Homo sapiens: one gene and its partners. The protein of the gene in region 2 interacts with the protein of the main gene of each other region in a biochemical or structural test. Each region holds a gene or a part of one and is shown on either strand. Other genes may lie near its edges.

Region 1 (9,650 bases), on a different chromosome or scaffold from region 2:
AAATGAACTTGAAGGGAGACGATCCTCCATGAATGTGTTCTGAGTATTTTCGGAGGGTAATAAGGGAGTGAATGTAGATTCCAGAGCCAAGGCACTGCAGCCCACCCAGTTGCCCTCCTCATTCCCCAGGGCAGTGAATCAGGGCTAAGAGTCATGGAAATGACCTTGGTCTTCCTCTCCAGCCCCTCCAAGGGGGAAAGACTAAACTCAGTGATACCAACTTGAAAAGAAGAAAATCCCACCAATGGGAGCAGAGTAGGCCAATTTGCAATTCCCAATAAGCCCTGCCTGACTGGTTTGGGACAAGCAGGCAGTGGGGGAGACCCTCCCTTCTGCACCCTCGCCTGAGTTCTGGGAGCCTCCAGAGGCTTCTTCTGATTCTTTTCCTTAGGCAGAGTTTCTGAAGAAACTCGGGGGGCACAGTGGTAACTCTCCTCTCCAGCAGTAAGGTCAGGAGGGTGGGTGTGGGAGAGATGGCCCAGCTGAGCCCGGAGCTGGTGCAGGGTGGTCGCTAGAGCCTCAGGCAACACTGGGTTAAGTCCGTTGTCAAGGGCCCCGAAGGATTAAGCAGGGCTGGAACGTACCATGCTCTGAATCCCTGCTTCGGTGATGATTCTGAAACTTATAATTTGCAATAAATCTGATGAACTTAGCCCCAGGCAGTTGGAATTAATAAAGTTTTCAGTAGATGTCCATGTTCCGTTTGAATTCTAGCTCCTGTTAACTCCCCAGTTAATCCTCATGTAATGTCTACCCAAAAATCTCTGTTCTCAATTTCCCACCCACCTTCTAACCTCAGGAAGCTAATGTTTGAAAATAGCACCCCAAATGAAGAGAACCCCAGCTTCTCTTCGATTGTTCTTTGTGGACCCCTTTACCCTCCCCGAGCTAAATCTGAATCTCCTTCATGCTGGGAGCTGCAAGCAGGAACCACAATCCCCTTCGGCCTGAAGGGAATGGAGGAGAATGGGGAGGGGCCATGCTATTTGGCCCGCAAGGAAATGACAGTGTCTGATCCCCCTTCCTCACCTCCCACTTCTCTACAGGGCTCCTGGTATTGTGACACCAGGGCAGAGGTGGGGACTAGGGAAGGGAAACCACAACTTCTAGCTCTGCACCTTGGCTGTGGGCTGAGCACTGGGCTTACGAGGTGCTCAGTTAACTGAAACCAGCGGACCTGTTGGGACATAACACAGAGCACAGCAGCCTGTGAGCAGTGGCTTTGAAGTATAGTCATAGCCAGTTGTCCTCCGTGTCCCACAAGGATGTCTGTGGAATCTGGTCTCCACCTAGACTGAGGTCCAGACATGCTCGATTTCCTTTATCATGGTGAAAAGAGCAGGGGTCCCCAGTGCCTAGTGACCACCAGCAAGATGAGGCCCTTAGCGCTGTGGAGCCCCACCCACTAGGGTGTGTCTGGACTGCTCAGTGGGAAGGGGCAGGGCTGTCAGTCATTTCCCTCCCTCTGCATCATCACCGACACTCTTCTGGCAACCAGTCTTTATTCATTTTTTAAAAAAGGAAATCCAAATAAGTTAGCAAAAAAAAAAAAAAAAAAAAAAAATACAAAACAATGGCAAAACCACACAATGCTTTGTTAACAAAAGAAATCACCCCCAAGAGGCCCCAACCCCTTTTCCCTGCCTGTCCCCGGCAACTTCAGCACAGGAGACCTTGGTCGGATGGCAGCTTTACAAACAACACACGAAACAAAACAAAACATAAAACCACTGGAAGGTTCCCAATATTCACTGCAAAAGTTTGGCCCCCCAGGGACTTGGGAACAGAGGGCTGTTCCTCTCCCCTTCTTCTCTCTCAATTCAGGGCAGGCCCAGCCCAGCCACTGGCATCGGGAAGAGACCAGAACAGGAGACGTGCACAGCTTGTCCAGGTCAGGGCACTGCGTCTCTCAAACCGTTTCACTTGGGGGGTGGAATTAGAGGCCGCGTTATGATAAAAAGGAAGCTCCTGAGTTTGCCCCCTGAGCTGGGGCATACACGAGGGGGCGCTCTGGTCCCCTGCTTTACCTCCCTGGAAAGGGGATGCCCTCTCCTCTAAGGAGGCAGCTGAATGAGGGCGTCCAGTCCCTTGCTGGGGGGTGGGTTAACCTTACATGGATGAGGAAGGGGATAGTCTGGCCTATGGCACCCCAGAGCTGGCTTCCTAGCATCAGGGCAGCCTGGCTTAGGAGGCCCCTGCTACAGAAGTAGTGGCATCTGTGGCCAGCTTGGGGGGCTCGCAAGGATGCCCGGCTTGGAAGACAATCTCAGTTGGGCATGGTTTCATCTGGGAAGGCCACAGACACATCTTCCACTGTGATGCTGTCCACGATGGAGGTGAGGGAGTGCAGGTTGTGGGCATCTGTAGGGTCAGCCGTGAGCAGATGATCTGTAAGGGGAGGTGGGAAGGTGGTACCTGGGTGAGCAGTGGGGGTTCTTGAGGCCCAGAATAGAGGATGGGACCCTTGGGGTGACAGAGGTTTTCCAGGACAGATGAATGACAAAGCTCCGGAGTTCTACTCCCTAGTCCCTGCCTTTCCCCATGCTCTGTGAGTGTGTGTGTGTGTGTGTGTGTGTGTGTGTGTGTGTGTATGCGCCTCTTTTCTGAACTCCCCTAGTAGGTAGGGTTTGGAAGCAGCCACTCAAGTTGGAGCAGGATGGAGCTCCCCAGAGACTGGACCTGCCCTTTGCTCGGCCCAGTTTTGCAGCACTGACTCAGCACTTCACAGGGACCCCTGGGGCAGGGACATTGTCCTCTCTGTGGAGAAGGTCAACCACCAGGCATCAGCTGGGGAGCTGCAGGAGCTACTATCACTCCTTTGCTGGTCAAGACTGCAGGGGCACACAGAACCTCCCAGCCCACCCTTTGGGCCTTGGAGTCAGCAGGTCCCTAGAGAGACCCAAGGGAAGAGGACCGGAGCAAGGAATAAGGTAAGAGGGGAGAACCTGGCCCAGGGAGGGACTGAGGGATTGGAGCCAAGGTTACCAGTCAGGCCTTACTTACCCCCTGGGTTGGCGCTGAACTCCAGTGCACTGCCCCACTCTGGACTGCAGGAGGCGCTGTGAGAGCTGCATTCGCTGGGCACCTGCAAGACAGGGCGAAGGCCCAAGGTCGGGGCACAGCCATTCTTTGATGTCTCTCTCTGCCTAGTCCCAGTGGGCAGAAGTACCTGTGGTGGGGTTGGAGGGTGGGCCACAGGCTGTGGCCTTCCAGCCCAGGCCATCCCCAACCCCAGAATCTTTGTAACTAGCTCCTCTCACACCCCAGAGGCCCTGCTTCCAGGCCTTCCTGGCTTCCATCCTGGGTGGTGGTTCTGCTCTCACAGGACACCAGCTTAAAGGGGTCCCTGGTTCTCCTGACTCTGGCGATAAGGGTGATGGAGACAGATTTTGTGGCCCAGTGAAGGTCGCTCTGTGCAGGCCTGCTGGAGTTCCAATGAGACTGAGTGGGTTTTCTCTCTGCTCAGCCACACCCAGGATGGGGGCAAAGCAGTCTTCTCTGGTGAACTTGGCCTGGCCTTTTAGGCTCTGACTCAGGCGCTGGGATTAATCCTCACCCTCACCTGGGCTGACTGTGGCCTTGCTCCTGATCTTTCTTCAGTCCTATGTTCCCCACCCCAACCCCTTCTGCACTTCCTCCCCACTGCCTTTATCTTGTCTGGAAAGAACACAGGACACAGGAGGTCAGCTGGATAGCCCAGCTCTGACCAGGGAAGGGCTCCTGCAGCCCCTCGACCCTGTCTGGCACCTGCACCAACCCTCTGAGCCCCTCTTGGGGTCTTGAGGCTGTCCAGGTGCCTCCCTCTGGCCCCGTCCCCTTGGGGCAGGGGGATGGGATGGCCACTTACCCCTGGCTGGGGCCCGCCCCCGCCCCGGTAGCGGAGGTCACGCTCCTCCTGGTTGAGGGAGCTGAGCAGGGCCTGGAGGCGCTCGATGTACTGGATGGCACTGCGCAGGATCTCCACCTTGGGCAGCCGCTGGTTGGGGTTGAGCAGGGTGCTTCTCTTCAGGGCCTCGAAGGCCTCATTCACCTTCTTGAGCCTGCGCTTCTCCCTCAGTGTGGCCGCCCGCCGCCGGTCCACGGACACCGACTTCCTCTTACACACCTTACACGCCCACGGCAGGCACTGGCCTGGACAGTGCTCGGGGGTCCCCAGCCCCTTGTCCTCAAGGGGCCCTGGGGCCTCGGGGCTCAGGGTGAGCTCCGTCCGCTCGTAGCCTGGTGGTTCGAAGCCCTGGAGGTGGACAGGCAGGTAGTTTTCCCCATCATAGAAGCGGGGTTCCTGGTAGAAGTAGGGGGATGTCTCATACAGCTCCATGGGGTCGGAAAAGGCTTGTTCCTGCCACCAGCCCCCAAGCTCCAGCAGCCCCTCACGCCAACTGCTGGGTGCCATTTAAACCCTCCCCGCTGGCATGGAACCAGAGATAAATATAGCCAACGCCACAGAAACCTGAGCCCCCTCTAAGCTGTTGCTGCACATCAAGGCGTTTACAGTGGATTAGATGTGATTCCCCTTCTTTCTCCCGCATGGCCCCCACCCCACCCTGCCAGCCTGCCCCTGGCCCAGGCGGGCTCCTGTGCACGGGTCGGGAGGCCGTCGGGTGTAATTTGATTAGTTTTCATTTCTCAGCAGCCCCTGTGGGGCAGGGGCGTTGGGGGAGGACACATTCCCCTCTCATCTGCTCCTTTCAATTACTCCTAGCTGGGCGGCCTGCCTGCTGTCTCCTTGCAGTCCCGAAGAAGCTGGTGGGTATAGGGGGAGGAGGGAACAAGGAAGGGTAGGCTTAGGCTGGAAGGGGCCTTAAGAGCCAACTTATCCATCTCCTTGCTTCCTGACAGCACCTTAACCACACTACATCAGTCGATGAGACTCTTTTAAAGACTTCCCTCCGGAAAGAATGGGACTGCTTCAGATTCTGGGCATTCATGGGCACTCAGTATCCAGGGATAAGAAGGATCAAGACTCAGAGCAGCTAACAGATTCCACTTTTGGGGTTCCCAAGCAGCTTTGAGCTGTATGTTCTCTTAGGTCTCATCTGGGGGGGTAAATTGAGGCAAGAGAAATTATTTGGGTTTTGGTTTTCTTGGCAGGGGTAAAGAGAAATTTCCTCTTTAATACAGCAGCCGTGGTCAGAGCAGAGATTAGAATTTACAGCCTACACGTTGCCACCTTCCCCAGAGCGGCAAGGTCAAGATGTCCTAAGCTCCCTGTCTCCTCCCTGTCTCACTCCGGACCATTGATCTGTCCTTCTATGTTACCTCCTCAACTCTTTTTCCAACACCAGAATTTTCCTGGCTCATTAATGTGGACGGGGGTGAAAAAGTAGAAAAAACAGAGCCCTTCAAACTCAGTTTAAATCTCCTCTCTCCTTGGCCACCGGGCTTGGTTGTTCTGCCTCTTACTGTCTGAGCCATCAATTTTACACGTATCATGCAGGTCTCAAATGTCAGGTAGAGCAGGGACTATTTAATCTTCAGGCCTCTCAGGCCATGGTCACCTCTCAGTAGGTGCCTCAGGGTCTGAGAGGACAAATTCCTTCCAATGCAGTGGGCAGACCTTAGACACTAGCAGTGAACAAGGCTCAGTCTTAGGGCTGGGGATTATAGGGACACCCCAGACAGGATCCCTGCCCTCGAACTTACCATCTGATAGACAACGGTGATCACCTCTTTCTACCTAGCCCCTGATGCCCAAATCTCCTCCGAGGCGGCTACTGTTCAGCTTCTGCTCACGTCAGGAGACAGCCCGTTCCATTGACGTGTAGCTTTGGGCTGCAATCTGCTCCCTCTATCTTTTATCCTTTGTTCCCAGTTTTTTCCTCCCCATAGACTAATGTCCTGCTCCTTATCCTACGACAGATCAAACTGACAAGTTCAAGCCAGTGGCAAGGACAATAAGAGGAAGGGGAACCCTGCTGGGGACTCATGGGAGACTTCACAGGGAACATGAGATCTGCGAGGCATGTGAAGAACCAGTGTTCCTTCCTCTCATTATTCACAGCAGGGAGCCAGGAGAATTCTGATGTCCTTTTGGGACAGGAAATGGAGGGAAGGAGGGAACATAGCTGGACAACAAAAGAACCCTAAGCATGTTGAGGGAGAGCAGTGAGGTCTTAATTCTGTTCTTGGCCTTACCAGCATGATAGAAAGTAGCAGCATAGGCCGGGCGTGGTGGCTCATGCCTGTAGTCCTAGCACTTTGGGAGGCCAAGGCGGGTGGATCACGAGGTCAGGAGTTCAAGACCAGCCTGGCCAAGATGGTGAAACCCTGTCTCTACTAAAAATACAAAAATTAGCCAGGCATGGTGGTGGGCACTGTAATCCCAGCTACTTGGGAGGCTGAGGCAGGGAATTACTTGAACTCAGGAGGAGGAGGTTGCAGTGAGCCGAGTTCGCACCACTGTACTCCAGTCTGGGTGACACAGCGAGACTCTGCCTCAAAAAAAAAAAAAAAAAAAAAAAAAAAAAGTAGCAGCATAGGTACTGTGTGGGTTCTAAACTTTGCTTTCCCCTGACCAGCTGGGCTGAAGAAGAGTCTCTATTTCTAACACATCCCCTGCCAAACAAAAAAGAAAAAAAAAGCCTCAGTTTACCCTCCAGTCCTATGAGCCCTGAGAAAAGAAGTCATGTTGAAGCCACTATAGGAACCCCCATATTTGCATCTTTTGTTATTCCAGGATCCAGTGTGACTTACCTCTAAATAATGTGTCTTCTTCCTCTAAAATGGAGGCAGAGCTGGCTTGCTCTATGGTGGTTTCCAGACCTTACTGTCTAGTTGGTGAGCATGGGTTGACATGTGAAAGCTGGATTACAAGACAAGGGAGAGCTATGTTGATTCTACAGCAAACATGGGGGCTTTAATCAATTGCAAACCAGTAGTTTCTTCAAAAGCGTTTTGGGAATTTTTGGGAAGCCAAAACTGCTGAAGACTGGTGCTCTGCAGAAGGCTTGGGGAGCATGCTGGGCCAGCTCTTGGAGAACTGGTAGGATTCAGATGAGGAGAGGGGAGCAGGGGAAGGGGACGTTGGGTAGGCTGTTTGTATGGAGCTTGGGGTTCAGGTAAGGGGGTGATTTGAGACAAACTTGCACAGAGGGGAGGAGGCCCAGCTGGGCAGGGAAGGACTTGAGAGCTGAGGCAAGGAGACCGCACAGAACAGTGTGATGGTCATCCAGGAATGAGATGATGAAGGTCTGAACAACCTCTTCAGAGGCAGGAGGATGGATTCGACTGGGAGAGGGTGCATGTTTCAGGCTAGCAAAGGATGGCGAGTATGCAAGCAATAGGGGAATGGCTGTATTAAATGATAGGGTACTTGGCACATGGATACACCTGGTAAATGTTATTCCCTTTTCTTGCTTTGTCTTCTCTTCTACTTCTGTGTGCCCTGCAGGGGACCACAGCAGCAGGAATGGAGGAGGGAAAACCTGGCTCCACCCCGAATGTGTTTATTCATTCATTCATTTTTTTTTCTATCAAGTACTGTGCATTCAGCACCTTGTGCCAGGTGCTGGGGTTACTAAGACATGCCCTCTCTGCCTTCAGCATGTTCACTGATGAGTAAGGAGAATGAGTACACAAAGTCATCTAACCAAGGTAGAAACAGCAGGCTAGAGAAAGTGCTGACGTAATCCAGAGAAGGAATTTATTAATTCACTCCTTCATCTGCTCAACACATATTTACTGAGAACCCACTCTGTGTCAGTTCCCTGGCTGGGACCTGACCTGGGGCAAGAGCAGTGCCTAGACTCGGCGCTTGCCTGCAGAAGCTCTGTTGGGCATGCATTTGGCCTTGTGTCTGGATGATGTTTGCCTCTGACCAAACATGAGGGCAGAGCCGGGAGGTTAGGGTGACCTTGTGTGCCTGGTTTCTGTGAATCCCTGTCTCTGTGTGTGTTTGTGTATGTCTGAGTACAGTGGTTTGGGGACCACGTCAAAGCCCGATGTGGGGCACAGACCCTCTTGGTCTGAGCTGATAGAGTGACCCAGGTGTCTTTGACCTGTCCATACCCTGATGGGGGGGATTGGCCCTGTACCCATCTTGTTCTTCTCTCAGAGCCGAGCTGTGGAGACGCCTCATCTAGAGGCTTGGTCCTCCTCCCCTTGTACACCCCTCCACCCCCACAAGCTGCCCTCTGATGGATGGGAACACATTGGTGCCAAGCACAGAACAGCCTTTGTGCTCCGCCACCAGCGGCAATCCATCAGCTCCAACCTGACAGCAGGGCGTCCGGCCCTAATCCCCATCCCTGCTGGCTTGGGCACACAGGGCCCCCTGCCCTGACTGTAGCCTCCTCCTCCAGCAGTCCTGCGCCCTCCAGAGGAAGCCCTTATCCCCTACTGGGGCTCCAGGGCCACATTGTTGGCTCCCCAACCCTGACTGTTTCAACTTGATTCTGTCTATTTGCACGCTGGGCTGATGTCATTTGCATGGTAGCGGCTGGATTTCAAAATGCTCAGAAATCCCCTTCACCTGCTCCCTGCTCCTTACTACCCCTTCTGCTGCACACCCAGTCACAGCCCTCTGGCCTTCAGCATCTTCTAGTCCCTGCTGATTTTGCAGGTGGGCTGACCTGGGCTGCCATGGTGCTTGGCTAAAATCAAAGCAATTTTTCCATTCTGGATTCTCATGTGCTTGGGAATAGAGGAGCAAGAAGGAGAAGGGTCTGGAAGGGTGGGGGCCTCTGGCTGCTCCAAACAGGTCTCACCATATATTTTCCTAGGCTGGGTCTCTGGGTATTATTGATGAGGATGAGGTCGGGGGTGGGGGGGGGTGGGGGGGGGTGGCAAATGCTTGTGCATTTCAATAGGACATAGATGCATAAAAATTACATGCAAATCAGCATTGATTATTTGTGGGGCAGTAGCTTTGCAGCAAGATGAGAACAGATCACAGAATCACAGAAAGTCAGAGCTGCAAGGCAGTCTAGAATCCACTAGTCCACCTTCTTCCTCCACATATGGGGAAATGGAGGCCCAGAGAAGGGAAGTGACTTGCCCAAGCGTACAGAGGATGAGTGTCAGAAGTGTGAAGGGTGCCTGTTCTGAATCCCAGAGCCTCCTCTCCCTCTGTGAGGCTGGCAGGTGAGGAAGGGTAAGTAGTAAGCAGCAAGTGAGTAGATATTTCCCGGTGGGCCTGGGGCCACAAGTAGGCAGACAGTGAGGGGTTGGAGAGTTTGAATGGAGGGTTTAGAGAGACATCAGGAGAGGTACTGCTGGAGAGATGAAAAGAAGATACAGGAGAGGTGTGAGAGAGAGAGTGGGCTGGAGGTGCCAGGCAGAGGCCTGAGGGATTGAGACAGGGGAGATTTGGAGGCAGATGCCAGGATTGAGATGTGAGGAGGAAGGGAGGGTCCCCCCTCCACCAGGCCTCTGAAGCCACACGTTGTTTCCATGGAGGACTGAGCATCGGATGACCACTGGGAAATCCCGTCCCTGCCTGGAATCTGATGCTCAGAGCCAGGATCATTCTTCAAGAATTTCTGGCTTTAGGGTGTGGGAAGGTGCAGACCCGGAGGTGGAAGGGGTTGGGTTGGAGGAGAGTGGGTGAGGGTCAAGGGGAGGTGATTGGTGGAGACAAAGCAGAGAGCTGGTTTTAAAAATAACCAGAACTAGGCTTAGCACTGTGAACTGGGGACCTGGCTCTGGTGGGG
Region 2 (8,918 bases):
CAGGCCTATGGATACAGACACTGGAACAGATAAAGGTTTAGAAACATGGATACACAGACACACAACACAGATGAAGATATGTGGATGGATGGATGGGTGAATGGATGAATGGATGAATGGGTGGATGGACGGATGGATGGATGGGTGGGTGGATGGATGGATGGGCGAATGGGTGGATGGATGGATGAATTGGTGGATAGATGGATGGACTGGTGGATGGATGGTAGGGTAGAGTGGATGGACAGATAGATGGGTGGATGGATGATGGATGGATGGATGGTTGGATGAATGGATGGATGGATTGGTGGGTGGGTGGGTGGATGGATGATGGATGGATGGATGGTTGGATGAATGGATGGATGGATTGGTGGGTGGGTGGGTAGATGGATGATGGATGGATGGATGGTTGGATGAATGGATGGATGGATTGGTGGGTGGGTGGGTGGATGGATGATGGATGGATGGATGGTTGGATGAATGGATGGATGGATTGGTGGGTGGGTGGGTGGATGGATGATGGATGGATGGATGGTTGGATGAATGGATGGATGGATTGGTGGGTGGGTGGGTAGATGGATGATGGATGGATGGACGAAGGAGACCTGCTGGAAAAAGGAAAGCATTAAATCTGAAAACAAGGAAAGAAATATGGATTCTCCAATTTTACACCTACTCCAGCCTGGGTGACAGAACAAGACCCTGTCTCAAAAAAAAGAAAAGAAAAGAAAAAAAGTGCATTTACTGCCAGTGATTAGGGTGCAAACACGTAGATAGATAGATAGATAGATAGATAGATAGATAGATAGATAGATAGATCAACTTTGTGACTTTTTGCCCTAAAGGCTGTCTTAGAACTGAATCCTTTCAGGTGGGTGGGACTCTGCTTGTCCTGTGACCTTGGACAAGGAATAAAATGATGCAAATTCTGTGGGCCTCAGTGGCTTCTCTCTCTCTGTATATATATATATGTGTATATATATATATATATATTTTTAAAAATGCTTCCTGAAAATCTGCACCCTTGGCTGTGGCCAGGCCTGTTTCCCTGCAGCACCAGAACAGGAGGCTGGTTTTTCTTTTCTTTTTCTTTTTTTTTTTTTTTTTTGAGATGGAGTCTCACTCTGTCACCCAGGCTCGAGTGCAGTGGCGCGATCTCGGCTCACTGCAAGTTCCACCTCCTGGGTTCATGCCGTTCTCCTGCCTCAGCCTCCCAAGTAGCTGGGCCTACAGGCACCCGCCACCACGCCCGGCTAATTTTTTTGTATTTTTAGTAGAGACGGGGTTTCACCGTGTTAGCCAGGATGGTCTCGATCTCCTGATCTTGTGATCTGCCTGCCTCGGCCTCCCAAAGTGCTGGGATTACTGGCGTGAGCCACCGCGCCCGGCCGCGGCTGGTTTTTCAACAGAGTCTCAGGTGACAGGGTTGACATTCAGAGGCCTCATAGTACCAAAAATGCATGTGAACACTGGAATCCTACTCTGTGGGTTGAGATTCTCCCACCAGAGAGACTCAAAGGGACCTGATGCCACCTGTGAGTCATGTCTCTGCTGTGGGTCTCCCTGTGGGGGAACAGAAGGGATCAGACTGCCTGAGCCATATAAATTTTCTCTCCTCCTCTCCTGCTCTGTCTCAATCCCTGCCTCTTTCTCTCTCCCTCTCCTGAACTTATATTACCAATATGTCACAGATAGGCTGGGTGCAGTGACTCACACCTGTAATCCCAGCACTTTGGGAGGCCAAGGTGGGCGGGTCTTTTGAGGTTAGGAGTTCAAGACCAGCCTGGCCAACATGGAGAAAACCATCTCTACGAAAAAAATAATAAAAATAAAAAATAAGTCAGATATTGTGGCAGGTGCCTGTAATCCCGGCTACTCGGGAGGCTGAGGCAGGAGGATTGCTTGAACCCGGGAGGCAGAGGTTGCAGTGAGCCGAGATCGCGCCACTGCATTCCAGCCTGGGCAACAGAGTGAGACTCCGTCTCAAAAAACAAACAAACAAACAAAAAGTTACAGATAAATACAGCTCAATACAGCAGCACTGAAACAGGCAGACTGGGATTTGAACTTGGGTCTGCGTGATTCCAAAGCCTGTGCTTTCCCCTGCCTCGCTGAGCAATTCGCTTCTAGAATTTGTGGCTTTTAATATTGGCACAGGTGACAAATGGCACAAGTAGAAGGCAATTCCTTGCCACGTTGCTTGCCATAGCAAAAGATTGGAAGCCACCAAGGAGCCCAGCAAAAGGATACTGATTAACTAAATGGAGGTGCATCTGTTCAATGCAACCACTGAAAAAACCCCGCTGAGGAAGCTCTGTGTGCCCAGGTGGAGCAGAGTTTATCTGGTGTGTCTGCTGTGCTGCTACTTATGAATAATTTGAAGTGAGGTAAAAGAGGATTTCTACATATTTGTGCACGTGTAAAATACCGGAGGGCACGCAAGGAACTGGGGACTCTGGTTCCTTCCAGAGGAGAACGGGGTGCTGGGGATGGGAGTGAGAAGGACAGTTTTCTCTGTTGTCCTTGTGTACTTTGTAAATTACATAATATATACTATATATGCATACATGATATTTATTTTTATTTAGTTTTTTTTTTTGAGACAAAGCCTTGCTCTGTGGCCAGGCTGGAGTGCAGTGGCGCGAGCTCAGCTCACTGCAACCTCTGATTCCCAGGTTCAAGCGATTCTCCTGCCTCAGCCTCCCGAGTAGCTGGGATTACAGGTGTGCGCTACCACACCCAGCTAATTTTTATATTTTTAGTAGAGACAGGGTTTCACCATGTTGGCCAGGCTGGTCTCAAACTCCCGACTTCAGGTGATCCATCTGCCTTGGCCTCCCAAAGTGCTGGGATTACAGGTGTGAGCCACCGTGCCCAGCCAATATTTATTTTTATTTATTTATTTTTCTTTTTAGAGGCTACTTGCTCTGTCTCCCAGGCTGGAGCACAGTGGCGTGATCATAGCTCACTGTAGCCTCAAACTCCTGGGCTCAATTGGTTCTCCCACCTCGGACTCCCAAGTACTTGGGACCACAGGCACATGCCAACATGCCCAGCTAATTTTTGTACTTTTTCTTCTTTTTTCTATTTTTTTTTTTTCATAGAGACAGGGTCTTGCTATGTTGGCCAGGCTGGTCTCAAACTCCTGGGCTCAAGCGATCCTCCCACCTTGGCATATATAATATTTAAAACTGAATTGTAAACTGGGTATGGTGGCTCATGGTGGTAATCCCAGCTCTTTGAAAGGCCGAGGTGGGAGGATCACTTGAGCCCTGCAGTTCAAGACCAGCCTGGACAACATAGTGAGACTCTGTCTCTATAAAAAAAAAAATAAATTAGCCAGGCATGGTGGTGCACACCTGTAGTCCCAGCTCCTCAGGAGGCTAAGGTGGGAGGATTCCTTGGGCCCAGGAGTTTGAGACCAGCCTGGACAACATAGTGGGACCCTGTTTCTACAAAAAATAGAAAAATTAGCTAAGTGTGGTGGCACAAGCCTGTAGTCCCAGCTACTTAGAAGGCTGAGACAAGAGGATCTCTTGAGCCCGAGAGGTCGGGGCTGCAATGAGCTGTGATCGCGCCACTGCACTCCAGCCTTGGCGACAGAGTGAAATCCTGTCTCAAAAAAAAAAAAAAAAAAGTCTGAGAACTCATGTTTCTTGAGGATTTACTGTGAGCCAGGCACCGTGCTGAGGACTGGCCACTTACATCTTATAACCCTAGGAAGTAGACGGTGTGCCCATTTTGCAGAGGAGAAAACTGAGGCTCAGAAAGGTGCAGTCACTTGTGCAAGGTGATCTAGTTGGGACTCAAAAATATTTCATGTTGCCAGGACCACCCCACCCCCGCAGGCCTCTCCCCAGCTTCTCTCTCTCCCTTCTTTCCGGGGCTCCTAGGATCCTCTCTCCTTCATCTCCCTGCTTTGCTGAGTGCCAGTCAGAGCTCAGAAGGAAGGGCAGTACAAAGTCCAGCCTGGTGCTCTGTGGCAAACATGTTTATCTGATCCTAGAGCCAGGCTGCCTGATGCCTCCCCTCCCCCATCTGCAGCCATCACCCTCCTGTGCCATGTCCTCCTGTGTCCTCCCTTCCTCCCTCCTTCCCTTCTCTCTCCCACAAAGAGAATAGGGTCAGTCTTCCTCTCACCTCTTGAGAGCCTCTCCTGGGCTCAAACCAAAGATTTTCTATGTGCCCCTGTCCATCTGATTCCATGTCTGTCTGTTTCTTTCTCTCTCTCTCTCTCTCATTCTCATTCTCTCATGCCAGGTCAAATTTAAGCTGAACTTGAAAATAAAACAAAGGCCAGCCACCCTGCACAAATACATGTGCAACCCTTAGAAACCGAAGACAGGCTTTTGAATGTGAAAATGGAAAGCAAACTGTTAAAGTGAGCTGATACGAACGTTCCACTTTTAAACAATTCCTAGTAGAGTTGGGCAAAAAATCCACAACAAAAAAGTGAATTTTAAATGCCAGTTAGGAGTCAGAGAACCAAGAGGGCATGTCTTTCCCTTTTCTGGGAGAAGCCACCTGTGCCACTTTTTTCTAGAACCTACTGAATCGATGTCTCTCTCTCCCTACCCCCCACTCCCTTGCTATCACTCTCTCTCTTCTGTCTCTCTGTGTGTCTCTTACACAAACACACACACACACACACACACACACACACACAGAGTCTTCAAGGGCCTGACTATTTTTGAGGGCAGATTCTCCAACTGTCCTAGCTCAGAACTAAGAGGCCAAGGCTGGGCGTGGTGGCTCATGCCTGTAATCCCCACACTTTGGGAGGCCGAGGCGGGTGGATCACATGAGGTCAGGAGTTAGAGACCACCCTGGCCAACACAGTGAAACCCTGTCTCTACTAAAAATACAAAAATTAGCTGGGTGTGGTGTCGTATGCCTGTGGTCCCAGCTACTCAGGAGGCTGAGGCAGGAGGATCACTTGAACCCGGGAGGCGGAGGTTGCAATGAGCCAAGACTGCGCCACTGCACTCCACCCCCAGCAACAGAGTGAGACTCCATCTCAAAAAAAAAAAAAGAAAGAAAGAAAAAGGAAAGAACTAAGAGGACAAGTCTCCAGGCATCTCCTGCTTTGACTCTAATGGGTTTGAGAGTCAAACCAATGTGGGTTCAAATCCCACCACTGTGACCTAGCCACGCGTGCTCTTGCATGACCCACATCTGCCCTGTAACGTGGGGTAAATCCACCCCTACCTCACACTGCTACTGGGAAAATTAAATGAGCTTCAAATAGGGAGGATGAACTTAGGGCAATGCCTGGTGCACAGTAAGTGCTGAATTTGTGGAATAATATTGTCATCATCATCATCTTAACAATGCAGCCCTGGAGACCCTTGGCCCCACACAGCAGAGCCCAGGAGAAGTGAAGACCCGCCCACATCTTCCTCCTCTCTCTCCTACCCTTTCCAGGGTCAATCGGATGTCCAAGGCTTTGAGCCTCTTGCCCTCTGGCCCCTGGGGTTTCAGGGCATGCAAGGTTGTGGTATTCATCTCCACATCTGGAGGGGAGCTGACTTCTCAGTGTGGGGGCTTTAGACCTGGCCTTGATTCTTTGCTTAACCTCCGTGTGCCTCAGTTTCCGCATCTGTGAAATGGGGCTAATGATATTTCAGACTTCAGAGATGGGGAGGAGGAAAAAATGAGCTTAGCGCATTTTGTAAGCCCTTTGTGAACTCCAAAGCACTGTATGGAAGTGAGTTGATGGTCAACTTAAACAGCAGGAATGACTGGGGAGGGGAAAGTGTGACCTCGAGGTTGCTGTATGGAGCGTGAGGTAGGAGGACCCAGGTCCAAGTCCTGGCTTGCCTTCAGTCATTTGGAAGAGTTTCGTTCGGTAAGGCACTGCCTCTCTCAGCCTTAATTTGCTCATCTGTAAAATGGGATCACTAATAATAACTGCTGTATATTGCAGTTACTACATGTTTACTCTACAAGTGCCATGCCATTTAACCCTGTGGACAAGGGCTATTGTCATCTCTACCCTGCAGACGAAACTGAGGCTCAGAAGTATAAAATCACCTGCTCAAGCTAGAAAGGGGCAGAGCTAGGATTAGGATGCAGGCAGTCTGGCTTTTGTTGGGGACGTCAGATCCTCTGTCCCCCCCCCCTCCTGCCGTGGCTACTGTTTTCCTGAGTCTCAGTGCCCTGATGCTGCCTGATGGGCAGGATCAGAATACTTCAAGATTGGGGTTTGAAGGCTGAGGGCAGTGGCTCTGAGTGCCTGTAATCCCAGCACTTTGGGAGGCCGAGGCGGGCGGATCACCTGAGGTCAGGAGTTTGAGACCAGCCTGGCCAACATAGTGAAACCCCATCTCTACTAAAATACAAAAAATCAGCCAGGCGTGGTGGTGCATGCCTGTAATCCCAGCTACTCGGGAGGCTGAGGCAGGAGAATGGCGTGAACCCAGGAGGCAGAGCTTGCAGTGAGCCGAGATCGCGCCATGCACTCCAGCCGGGCCGACAGAGTGAGACTCCGTCTCAAAAATAACAACAACAACAACAAAAAAGAAACACGCTGGGGTTTGAGCTGATCAGGGACAGAAAGGACCCGGGAGGACACCCAGGAAGGAACTCTGGGTCCCAGTTTCTCCCTTGGCCACGTCTCAGGCTGCTGGGCCCTGACCAACAGGGCAGCAGATATCTTCAGGGCCTCAGACAATCCCAGTCACTCACTCATTCCTGCTGTGCATCAGCCACTGGGCAGGATGTGGGTACAAGTGGTAAATAAGGCAACACGGGCCTTGTCCTTGAAGAGCTTCTATTTTCATGGCAGGAGATAGAAAACAAACAAATCAGATGATCACAAGTCTTGACAGGGAACCAGAGAAAGTGAACAACAGTAGTGGAAGAGAGTGACGGGGGTGGGGCCCCCTTTTGGATGGAGCAATCAGGGAGCTGAAGGAGAAGGAATCGGCCATGGGAAGATCTGGAAAGAGGTTCTGAGCAGCAGGAAGAGCACGTGCAAAGGCCCTGGGGTGGGAATTGGCTTGGGGTACTGAGGAACAGCAAAGCCAAAATGACTGCAGCAAAGGCCGAGAGGAAGAGAAAGACCTGGGAAGAGATCCAGGAATTTGGTGGGGTGGAGGGAGGGGAACGAAACCAAGGCAGGGAGTTTGGACTTTATTCCTTGGCCAGGGAGGGAAACTGAGGCAGAAGGAGAGGAACAGACTTTCCCAAGGTCACTCAGGGAGCTAAGGGGGAGATCTGAAGAAAGAGCTCAGGTTCCTGCTGTGGCCACCAACATGGGGCACCCCAGGGAGGCCTGGGACCCAGGACCCACCCCGGCTTCTTCCCAGACACTGACTTCTCCCGGGAAACAGCTTCTACTAGACATTCTGCCTCTGTACCGTCTTCCCAGCCTCAACCTCCCCAATGGCCCAGGCCTTCAATAGGGGTCCCCCGCCCCTCTCTCCCTGGCTCCTTTCCTGACCCTGACGCTGGAGGCCCCACTTTTTTCACTCAGGGCGTTTTCCGATCCCTTTTGTTACCTGAACAATAAGTAACCCAGGTAGTTAGTTATAAACTCTGCAGGAACAAGGAGCTGGTTGATAATTTATAGCAACATCTCAAATTTAAATGGAAAGTAAATAGCATGCTGTTAGCATTAAAGAAAACCCAATCGGGGCAGGCGGGAAGCACTCCAGCCTCCTTGCAAGCTTGGGGCGCCTCATTCTCTCCCGTGCCCCTTCTCCCAGCTGGGTCTGAGCCCCCGCCCCCCTGGCTCCTCCGTTCTGCTTCTCCCAGCTTCTCTGTCCATCTCCCCCAATGGCCTCTCTCTACACTCTCTGCCTCAGCTTCCAGGTCTCTGCTGGTCCCTAGGAAGCACTTTGACCTCTGCTTCCCCTTCAAATGCTGTGGATCAAGCCTCCCCAACCCCACCATCCCACCAAAGGGGGCTGCTGACCGAGAGAGCTCACTCAGCCAGGTAAGAAAGCATCCCCTGCCCCCACCCTCACCCCAAAGCCCCCAGTCCCATCTGGGGCCCTGGGCAGGTCAGGCCCAGCCCCACCCCGTCAGGTTGCCTTCGCCCTGGGTCTGGGATGCCTGACTCTTTGCCCCTCCCCTGCAGCTCTGGAGTCCTTTGCCCTCCTCTTCCTGCCAAGTCAGGGGGCCCTGACTGCTCCCCTGCCCCCTGTCCAGGCCCTCGGGAGGCTCCCTGAGGCCTCTGGGAAAGCAGGAATCCACCAGCCCTCCCCCACCCCAGCTGGGATCAGGACCTTGGACAGAAAAGAGATGGGCCCCTTTGGAGCATCTTTGGGGCTCGGTCTCTCTCTGACTCCCTGGCCACCCCCTGCAGGCCTCTGGTCCCCGGTCATAGCAATTGAGAGCACCGAACAGAGTAGGTTTGGGGCCTCAGTTTGGTGAACTTAGTCTAGCTCCTTCCCGGCTCTAAGCCCCAGTTTCCCCATTTGTGAAGCAGAGTCACCAATAGCTTCTGCCCAGGACTCCTCACCATGAAGGGAAATTATTCCTGTGAAACCTCAGCACAGCGCCCAGGAAGTAGTGAACCTCCTCAAGCAGGCGCTGTAGGGTGGAGGTCAGGGAGCCGCTGGGGAGGGGTGGCCCCTGTAGCCCCCAGGCCATCCTTCCTTCTCCCCCACACCCCCATCCCCCACCCCCACTAGGTGGGAGGTGGGTTGGCCCAGATCTTTCCAGGCCACCATTCCTACAAGTTAATGATCACAGACCTTATCAGAGCCTTTTGCCATTTATAAATTTATAAAACAAAAGAGAAATAATAAAGCACATGGGTAATTAGTAACTAGGTCAGCTCTGCTGAGGAGAGGGGAGGCATCGAGCTCAGGACCCACCCAGTTCTCCAGGAGACGGGGAGTCCGCCAGCGGATGGGGATGTAGAACGGGCAGCCTCTAATGGCGCCTGCTGGTGAGGTGGGGTGCCTGTGGCC
Region 3 (3,235 bases), on a different chromosome or scaffold from region 2:
TCAGTAATACTTTCGCCCTCAAAACCTTTAATGGCTTAAGTAGGTTCTCAGGTCAGCCTCAGAAAGTTGATACCAAATGTGGTCTGCAGTCTTCAGACTTGAAAGACCTAGCATCCCAGAACAGATTTTCAGTTAACCCAGCCTTTGCATCAGATGGATTTTCACTATCCACCACTTCCTGTTCTCTCTCAAATCCCAAACTCCTGGTCCTTTATCATAGGACATGTCACATCCTTCTTAGGCCCTGCCCTGCCTTTTCTCCATGTTTTACTTGCTCAGGCCTCTAGCCTAGAATGGCTGAAATAGTTTTTGAAATGCTTGGTGGTGATGCATCACCTGCTACGATCAGCACCATCAGGGTTTTGCAAGTACTGGTCTGGTGAGACTAATGTAATAAACCAAATGAAGAAATGTAGTATGAGAAAGAAAGCATCTAATACTATAGCATTCGAAGCTGTACAAATTCTGTAAGACTTAAAAATTATATACCTTAAACAATGTAAGTTAACAGAAAAAAGTCAAATGACAATTTTAATAGACTTTAAAACAGTGTACAAGTAAAAAACACTGGTTTTGTATTTCAAAAGTTGAAGGAAGATATCCAGTCATTAAACAGTCTACAAAACATATGCCAGTAAATTACATAAAAGACTATGTACAATATAAAAAGAGCTGAAAACAGTCTTCACTGTAAAAATAATTTAAAACAAACTTTTCAATTTAAAATATCATCTATAGCACACAAACATCATGCAAATGGAAAACTAAATATACTGCATTCTTTAGTGTAGCCAAATAAATTCAGATTGAGACATCTTATAAGTAGGGAAATGGCCATTCAATACGATTTTTTTCTCTGGCAGTAATGGTCCTAGCTGGGTGTTTTATGCATAAAGAACAGCTATATTTCAAACCCTTTTTATTGTAATAAATACTAAAGCAACAGAGGAATACTTTATTAATTTAGGAGTGATGTTCAAAAATGGTCTGAAAAATAAATGCTTACTGTGCAATTTCATAAAGTATGAACTTCTTGAAAGACTAGAAGCTTTTGCAGCTGAGAAAGTTGATCTCTAGTTTTAAGGCAGGCTAAGCTTTTAAATAAAGATAAATTATAAGAACTAGTTTCATTCATTAACTATTCTGCTATTACAAGTTACATCATCATGTTCATCTCCATAATACTAGGGCTAGCAGTTTGGTATTTAACACCAAATCCTCCCAATGGGAGACATGTACTTTCTGGCTGAATTACAATTAACATCTTATTACTTTGGAACTGTATAATCAGGGGCCTGTTGCTCTCCTCATTAATGGAAAACAGCAGTCCAAAATATTACACTCTCCCCAGTAGAAGTACCATTATTATAGATTCAGAAAGGCTTTGCATATTCACATTTTGGCAGTTTAATACTTGTGGAAAAGATCAATGCAAGCTCTACCACAGTGATAGGTATTTAAACAACAATGGCAAATATTTCAAAACTAAGGGGATCCAGGCAGGCACTAATGTTTCTAAAGCAACTGAAACATTTCCAAAGCATTTATTTGTTTTTCAGGTTAGTTTTATGAGCCAATATAGACATTGCTACATGTCCACAGGAAGTACAAAAGCCATCTTCATTTGAACGTAAATACAATAATCCTGAAATTCTTAGCACCAAGTATTACTTTTAAAAGTAAAGACAACCGAGTGCTCTCCCCACATATTGTTGACTTCCTTCTACTCACACTGCATGTCATTTGAGATTTTAAAAAGTTAGCTGCCACAGTTTTGGAAAATGCCAGTGTTTAAAAATAATTGTGTTAAAGAATCAAAAGTTTAGCGTAACAGATTTTGAGTACTTCAAACCATTCAATGTTACAAAGAAAAGTGAAAATACCATTCTTTGGTCTAGATTAGCTGTTCCCTTTACATTAATTTAACATTCCGATGGCTTTTTGAAAACTTTAAAAATGTTGAAACTCACTAGACAAAACAAAAAAAATTATATATACACATATGAATTTATCATACAAATGAACCTTTAAAAGAAAGTTAGTCTTGACCAACAGCTGATTGAAGATACTTAGTACCTTTTTTTTTTTAAAAAAAAAAAAGTTAGTGTTGAGTTTGTACAAGTACAGAAATAATGAAGTTAAAAATTATCCATGAAAAACAATCTATTTTACCAACCTATAAATATTACACCTTTCTGGTTTCCTTGCTCTATCGAGTTCACAAGTAAACATTCATTTTGACATGCTAAAGTTCCTAATGCTGGTGGAACAATTCCTGTACCTGCACAATTATTACACTATGATTTGTTTGATGGATAGTTCATGTCTGTTACTTCCTGTTTCACAGATATAGCTTCATTAATTGCCTCTTGATCATCTCCATCAGTCCCAAATCCAGCTCCTCCAGCTCTCTCTGGAACATCAGGCTCATCTTCTAAGCCATTGTAGAATTCTTCAATTTCACTTTCATCCTCCATGGGTTCTTCTAAACTTGGACTCTGGCATGTCCCACTATCACTGTTACTGCCACAAGAACTAGAGGATAAGACGTCATCTTCAGAGTCTGAATATACCTCAGCGCCATGGAAAATGTAACGATTTGGTGGCAAAAACAGATACTGATTACCTGAAATACAGTAATAAAAATGTTACTTTCAGTTTTCTAACACTAACTCAGTCTGAGCAGTCTGGAATGAAGTGTGGGTTCCAGCTCTGCCTTTATTATAAGTGTCCTTATGAAAGACTACTATTAGTGTTTAAAAACAACTGGGAGGCATGGTGTGCCTGCAGTCCCAGCTACTCAGGAGGCTGAGGCAGGTGGACTGCTTGAGCCCAGGAGTTCAAGGGCCAGCCTAGGCAACAGAGTGAGGCCCTGTCTCTTAAAAATTAATTAATTAAATAAATACAAGCAATACACTTAGTCCTGGGTTCAAATCTTAGTTCTGCCATTTATTGTATCTTTGTAAGTGTACCTCTGTGCCTCAATTTCCTCATCTAGAATATGAAATAAATTTTCACAACCCTATGAAGGAGGGAAGTGTGAAAAATGTAGAAAACCATATTCAATAAAGGTTATTTCACCAATTATTTTAAAAAGATTTGATGAAAATGAAGTATCCAGCCCAGCCTACATTAGATACCCAATTTGTGTTAAGTAGCTTCTCTAAAGTACACAGGCTTTTAAAGCATCTTCATTAACTATTTTAACTTTTTTCTGATTATAAACCTAAAATAT
Region 4 (7,336 bases), on a different chromosome or scaffold from region 2:
AAGAGAGTGATTCAGAAGGCACTGGAAGAGATGGAAAGTAAGGAGTGGCTAGAGAAGAACTCAAAGAGCTGCCCATGTTGTGGAACTCCCATAGAGGTAAATGTTTTGGGACAGACTTGGAGGCCATCAGACTTGCAAGGATGTTATGATTACCTTAAGAAGCCTTACTAGTCAATTTTATGACTTACAAAACACATGCTGGTATTATTACACCTTCTTACGTGGAAGGTGGAAATTTCACTATTAGATCTTGTTATCGACCTTAAATGTTTGTAGACTTCCCTTTTCAAAGTATTTGCTTACAGTGACCATTGTTCTCACATTGTATCCACCTCAAAATTGAATGGGTTGTAAGGAGGGCATACTAGAGCTATGGTCAACTCTTACCTCATCTATGTGATTAAAAAAAATCAAATCTGATCTCTCAGAACTATTTATCCTGGAATGCTGCACACCTGTTTAAGATACACTCAGGAATTAATTTGAGTCAAAATAATTAGACAGATATATTGCTTCTTGACAAAAATCTTAATATGTTTTAAAATCAAAATACATCTTAGCATTTGATTCTATTGTTCTAATCTGTTATGTCTGAACTGAACATAGTGGGCTCCAGTTAAGGAAACTAGGACTATATGTAATCACTTTTTTTTTTTTTTTTTTGATACTGAGTCTCTCTTGCCCAGGCTGGAGTGCGGTAGTGCAATCTCAGCTAACTGCAATCCCCGCCTCCCAGGTTCAAGGAATTTTCATGCCTCAGCCTCCCGAGTAGCTGGGATTACAGGCGCCAGCCACCACACCTGGCTAATTTTTGTATTTTTAGTAGAGACAGGGTTTCACCATGTTGGCCAGGCTGGTCTCGAACTCCTGACCTCAAATGACTCGCCCACCTTGGCTTCCCAAAGTGCTGGGATTACAGGCATGAGCCACCACACCTGGCCATATAATCACTTTTGACATACCTTAGCCCTATGACAGAGTGGAGGACTTGGTACCAAATATTTACTTAGATTTCTGTAAAAATTAAAAACCCACACGTTACATCCAAACATTTTAATATTAATCTAACTACATTTTCCAGTTATACTTGTGTGATTTTTATCTACTGCTTGTCAGAAGAGATTGTGCCAAGTAACTAATTGTAGTAACACTAGCTATTTTCTGTATTTTACTTCTAATGCAAAATAGAAAGAATTACATAGTCATCAGTGTGTTACATTGATATCTCAACCCTGCATAAGAAAAGGGAGAGGACCAAGACAATGTTGTACTGAATCATTTTGGCATGTGCTGTCTCTTCTGCTTTTACAGCCTTGATATTTTTCTCTTTCTATCCTTCCCACCAGAAATTAGACGGATGTAACAAGATGACATGTACTGGCTGTATGCAATATTTCTGTTGGATTTGCATGGGTTCTCTCTCTAGAGCAAACCCTTACAAACATTTCAATGACCCTGGTTCACCATGTTTTAACCGGTATGTATACACAGAATTCCTCAGGCTCACCAGCAATTTTTGGTACTTGATTTGCAGACCACAAATCCAGTGTTTTATTTAAGTACTTGGACTTATTTAGAGAATTCTCTTACATGTTTTCCCCTATAAAGGAATTTTCATATTATTTTCTCAAAAATGAGTTTTATAATGAGACTTATACACCATCTGGAAGTTTTTATAGTGAAAGTTTTCAAACACAGAAAATTTGAAAGGATAGGACTATGAATAGTAGGATACTTTCCACCCAAATTAACAGTTGATAGTACTTTGCCATATTTGTTCCCTTAACATTTTTACTGAACTACATGAAGTTGGAGTTATGATAATGCTTCAACTCTAAATATTTCCACGTTTCTCCTAAGATAAGGAAATGCTTCTACATAATGACAGTACTTTTAAAAAACTTAATGATAGTGGCATACTATTATCTAGTAAACAAACATATTTGAAACTTCCTAATTATTTCTGAAAATATCTTTTAAAGCTATTTGATTGAACCAGAATCTGAACAAGTTCAGTCATTGTATTTGGTTCTATCTCTTTAGTCTCTTAATACAGAAAAGCTTTGGCCCACCTTTTTTTTGTGTGTGTTTTGTGAACATTCACTTTTTTTTTTGTTGAGTCAGAGTCTCGCTCTGTCGCCCAGGCTGGAGTGCAGTGGTGCCGTCTCGGCTCACTGCAAGCTCCGCCTCCCGGGTTCATGCCATTCTGCCTCAGCCTCCTGAGTAGCTGGGACTACAGGCGCCTGCCACCACGCCCGGCTAATTTTTTTGTATTTTTAGTAGAGACGGGGTTTCACCGTGTTAGCCAGGATGGTCTCGATCTCCTGACCTCGTGAGCTGCCCGCCTCGGCCTCCCAAAGTGCTGGGATTACAGGCGTGAGCCACCACACCCAGCAAAACATTCACTTTTTGAAGAGTCCAGGTCAGTTATCTTATATAACGTCTTACCTTCTAGACTTTTATTTGTCCATGGTGTCCTTTAGCTTGTTTCTCTTATTTGCTATAAACTGGAAGTTAGGTCTAGACTGAAGCTTGATTCGATTTAGAATAACATTTTTTATGCTGATACTTCATGAGGAGTGATGTGTATTCCGTATTGGATCACATCAAGAGGTCCATGATGTCCCTCATTAGTGTGGTGCTCATTTCTACAGTTTGCTTTATTGTAAAGGCAAGTTTTCCATTTTGTTATTAGGAAGTAATCTGTGGGGTGATTCCTTGGCACAATGTGAATATCCTGTTCTCCAAGAGCTCTCCACTTTCAGCATCAGTTGATGATCTTTGTTAAGAGGTGTCTGTTAAGTAAACACATTGGTATTGTGAAACTGTAAGAGAAATTGAAGAAACAAGCCCTGCCATGAACTATTGGAAATCTAGTGTTGGAAATTGCATAAGTTGTAGATAACATAAGGAAAGGAAGACAAATTGACAGCTACAAAACATTCTACAAATGGAGGGTGCAAGGACTGTGAAGATAGAATGGAGTGATGAGCATGTAGTAGTAATAATAGTGTCTTGAAAGGGTTCAGTTTAAATTGCCTGACTTCCCCAGTCTTGCCTTATTCCATGTATTGTATACGCTGAGTATCAGTTTTGTGATACCTATCCCTCATTATTGTTTATCCTTGGCCCTGGAGAATTTGTCTGGATTCTAAAAGGACTGTTTTGTTCGTTTGTTTTAATTTGGAAAGGAGAGCTTTATTTCTCATAAAGAGTTGAAGCCGGCAAGGTGGCTGTTATGACAGGTTGGGAAGCATAGCCTTCAGCCAGAAGCTGGAAACAGACACTCTAAGGATGGGAAGAGGAAGACAGGGATTTATGCCCTACAAGATAGCCAGATATACATATTCAGTAAGGTATAGGAGGAGTCATGAATATTTATGAAAGGAGAAAAACGCTGCATGTGCAGTTGAGCTTCATTACCCTTCAGGGGACCCATGTTCAAAAAATGGTGGCATTAGCATGATCTCTGGGGGAGTTCTCTGATATCAAAAGGTGAAGCAGAGAACACGAAAACCTCAGTCCACATCCTCCATAGACTGGCTAGAACCACTCCATGGTCAGTGGTCTATTGGCAGGAAGAAATGCTGGTCGGTTTTTGTGCCAAAACTGCAGAAGGGAGGGGCAGCATCAGGCAGTTGGTTGATATCAGCGGTGGAGCAAGTCTTCCCAAAGGGTTGGTTTGAACCCTTAGGGAAAGAAAGCCTAATGGTGGTCAGTGAGGGAGGGGGGTATGACCAGGTGTGTCTGGCCTCCCATCCCATCATGGCCGGGAACTGTTTTCAGGGTTTCTCTGGGGTTCCCTTGGCCAGGAGAGGGTCTGTTCAGTTGGTTGTGGGGCTTAGGGTATCATTTTTATTTCTCATTTTCCCCTTTTTGGCTGAGATTTGCCAGAGGCAGCATTGATGGTCAAACTTATTTTGTCCCATATCATTGCTGGAGTGGTGTGGCTAACCTGCCTCGCCTCCATCTAGGCCCTCAGTGGGACCCCTATGGCCAAGGGACTTAAGGCCAAAAGACAGCCAATTAAATCTTCTAGGCCAGTGGGAATGGAGCTGGACAAGTACTCATCCACCTTAAATGGGCCATTCTTAACTAACTTTAGGGTAGATTGTTCAGAGGGACCCATATTTCAGCCCTCCTCAGTGCAATGATTAAAGGAGAAGAAAAGATGTACAAAGATGTTATAAGAGTACAAAAAATATTTTTCAGCGGAGAGGCAATTTATATTGTTTCGTTCAAGTGTATAAAAATGTACCTTTTTTAATGCTTCCAGGCTGTTTTATGCTGTGGATGTTGACGACGATATTTGGGAAGATGAGGTAGAAGACTAGTTAACTACTGCTCAAGATATGGAAGTGGATTGTTTTTCCCTAATCTTCCGTCAAGTACACAAAGTAACTTTGCGGGATATTTAGGGTACTATTCATTCACTCTTCCTGCGTAGAAGATATGGAAGAACGAGGTTTATATTTTCATGTGGTACTACTGAAGAAGGTGCATTGATACATTTTTAAATGTAAGTTGAGAAAAATTTATAAGCCAAAGGTTCAGAAAATTAAACTACAGAATATTAAATATTATAATGTGCCCAAAGCTCTGAATAGTTAAAAATTAAATATTTATTTTCTTCCCCAAGCTTTAGGTAAGGAGAAGAGGGGTCAAGAGTTAAACTTAGAGACCCTTTGTCTCTGAGAAGCATCCTTCTAAGACATTCTGTTGGAGTTCCCTCAGTACTATTCCTTACAACTGGAGTGGGTAGAAGCCTTATGAAAATTATACTGAGAACCTGATCTCGTTTACTCCATGTTAATCACATTCCTACCAACCTAAATTTCTGCCAAGTCAGTTCTCTTTGGAGGAAGCCCATTACTCCGTAACTGACTGGATGGTCCAGTGTCATTTTGATCTGCTTTTCAGAATGGAAATTTATAATATAAATATATGTTTTAATACCACAAACACTGTGGGGCACTTGATATTTATTAGTGGTGTATATGGTCCACTGGTTTCAGGCCAAATCTAGAATTTAGTGATACTGGCTCAGAAGAATTTAAGTTCTATTCAGCCTTCCTGGGTGTTAGAACCTAGATTCAAAATGGCTTGTCTTTGCTACTTTTGTTCCACATTCTCTCTCTTTACCTTTGCCCTACCTTCTGTTTGTAAGGATGATTTTAATATTAATTCCAGGAACACATGTTTTTATTTCCTCTGCTGGAATAGGAGAAAGCTTAATATATTCCCAAGCTGAATGTTCTTGAATTATATCTGCATTTACCACTGTATATGCATATAGTGACAGTATAACCTGTCTATACTACAGTAGTTCCAGTCCTAACTTTCTGAATTATTTTTAAAGATCTTCTCTAACAAGCTATGGGAATTTGGCTTCATACTCTTTCTTTGCAACAGCAGTGTTCTGGGTGATAATTTTGAATTGATACCTGTTCCTTTTTCTGGGTTTTGTTGGCTTTTTGAAAAATTGTCTTTCCTTATCATTGGTGGGAGGCTTGGTAGCAAAGTAACATTTTTTGGAAAAGAGGACAGAAAAATTGAACTACAGCTTGAGAACGTATTCTTTTTTTCCTACTTTGTTATTGCAAATTGAGGAATCACTTTTAACTGTTTTAGGTGTGTGTGTCCAGAGTGAGCAAGGATTATGTTTTTGGATTGTCAAAGAGGATGCTTAGTCTTAAAATAAAAATAAATTTAAAAATCATCTTATAATTAGAACAGAGTTGCTGCTATTTGTTCTGTCACCAAGGCAACTAATCACATTTTAAAACTGTTCGGCATATAACATATTCTTAAAGTAAGAAAAAAAAGGTCACAGAATAGCATCTCTTTTACCTGGGCTTGTGACTGAGCTTAGGTTTTAGGGCCCATATTTTGTTTAAACCAGATAGTTTCATGGTCTTCCATTCAGGACATTTTGTGTAAAAATTGAGGTTAATTTGCTGGGCACAGTGGCTCACGCCTGTAATCCCAGCACTTTGGGAGGCCTAGGCGGGCGGATCACGAGGTCAGGAGTTCGAGACCATCATGGCTAACACGGTGAAACCCCGTCTCTACTAAAAATACAAAAAATTAGCTGGGCATGGTGGCAGGCGCCTGTAGTCCCAGCTACTCAGGAGGCTGAGGCAGGAGAATGGCATGAACCTGGGAGGTGGAGCTTGCAGTGAGCCGAGATAGCGCCACTGCACTCCAGCCTGAGCGACAGAGCGAGACTCCTTCTCAAAAAAAAAAAAAAAAAAAATTGAGGTTAAAGAATAAATTAAAGATAAGAAATGGAAATTAAAATGATTTGTTCTACAGTATATACCTGAGAAGAGTGATTTCTGTGATCAAAGAGTTCAATTCAGATTTATTCAGAAAGAGCTACTCAGAAGCTCTATAGTTCGTGAGCTACTTGATATTTTCTAGAGATCATTTTATGTTAAGCTGTTATACATTGTTGATGATGTCATAGAAGTAGGAAAGAAGCCTTTATAATACAGTTTTATGAAAGAAATGGGAGCCTTTTTTCCCATTTATGATATTAAAAACAACACAGGTATTTGGTGTTTAGTCTCAAAAATTTGTTTGGTCACCTTAGTGATTCTTAGGTACAAAGTCTTCATCACTCAATTTTAACAAAGAAAATAGGGCTTATAAAGTTATACTTTTGAAGCATGAGTTATGAGCTAATTTTAAGATGTATAGTTTTGGTAGAGTACTTTTGTCTCAGTAAAATGAAAGATTTGGGTAACTCCCCAAATGCCCTGTAAAACAAATGGGTTTGTGGAAGGTTGTGGTGTCAGCAAAATATATGATAGAATAAAGAGTTTTGTACCTACCTTAATTTCATGAAAGCCTTTTTTTATGAGTGGGTTGAGATTTGCCATAAATTAGTATGAATTTCATGGGCCTTTTTTCTTTTTGAGACAGGGTCTCACTGTCACCCAGGCTGGAGTGCAGTGGTGCGATCATAGCTCACGGCAGCCTTGAGATCTGGTCTCAAGCAATCCTCCCACCTCAGCCTCCTGAGTAGCTGCGACTGCAGGCACATAGCACCATGCCCAGCTAATTTTTTTTTTTTCTTTTTAGTAGAAATAAGGTCTCGCTATATTGCCCAGGTTGTGAACTCCTGAGCTCAAGTAATGCTCCTGCCTCAGCCTGCCAAAGTGTTGGGATTTACAGGCATGAGCCACAGTGCCTGGCCTCCTGGGTGTTTTTGGGGGAGTTTGAATAGTCAGTGTCTCTTCATTTTTATATAAAAGGTTTGGGTCTAGAGCTGATAAATGAAAATAAGCTATCAAATAACTTATTTATTTATTTATTTGAGATGGAATCTCCC

What was found.
Region 1: the proteins of HNF1A (region 2) and MYOG form a complex in vitro, tested with the Homo sapiens proteins (one study listed by BioGRID).
Region 3: the proteins of HNF1A (region 2) and SIRT1 form a complex in vitro, tested with the Homo sapiens proteins (one study listed by BioGRID).
Region 4: the proteins of HNF1A (region 2) and RNF14 form a complex in vitro, tested with the Homo sapiens proteins (one study listed by BioGRID).

What each region holds. Positions count from the first base shown.
Region 1 is NC_000001.11:203,081,644-203,091,293, forward strand, and holds MYOG (myogenin), read right to left. Parts: upstream 4,370-9,650; 5' UTR 4,319-4,369; coding exon 3,848-4,318; intron 3,086-3,847; coding exon 3,004-3,085; intron 2,931-3,003; exon of another isoform or gene 2,729-2,930; intron 2,389-2,728; coding exon 2,267-2,388; 3' UTR 1,486-2,266; downstream 1-1,485. UniProt on the Homo sapiens protein: Acts as a transcriptional activator that promotes transcription of muscle-specific target genes and plays a role in muscle differentiation, cell cycle exit and muscle atrophy.
Region 2 is NC_000012.12:120,979,662-120,988,579, reverse strand, and holds part of HNF1A (hepatocyte nuclear factor 1-alpha), read right to left. Parts: intron 1-8,918. UniProt on the Homo sapiens protein: Transcriptional activator that regulates the tissue specific expression of multiple genes, especially in pancreatic islet cells and in liver. Binds to the inverted palindrome 5'-GTTAATNATTAAC-3'.
Region 3 is NC_000010.11:67,915,656-67,918,890, reverse strand, and holds the end of SIRT1 (NAD-dependent protein deacetylase sirtuin-1), read right to left. Parts: intron 2,627-3,235; coding exon 2,298-2,626; 3' UTR 501-2,297; downstream 1-500. UniProt on the Homo sapiens protein: NAD-dependent protein deacetylase that links transcriptional regulation directly to intracellular energetics and participates in the coordination of several separated cellular functions such as cell cycle, response to DNA damage, metabolism, apoptosis and autophagy.
Region 4 is NC_000005.10:141,983,457-141,990,792, forward strand, and holds the end of RNF14 (E3 ubiquitin-protein ligase RNF14), read left to right. Parts: coding exon 1-96; intron 97-1,346; coding exon 1,347-1,477; intron 1,478-4,276; coding exon 4,277-4,334; 3' UTR 4,335-6,836; downstream 6,837-7,336. UniProt on the Homo sapiens protein: E3 ubiquitin-protein ligase that plays a key role in the RNF14-RNF25 translation quality control pathway, a pathway that takes place when a ribosome has stalled during translation, and which promotes ubiquitination and degradation of translation factors on stalled ribosomes.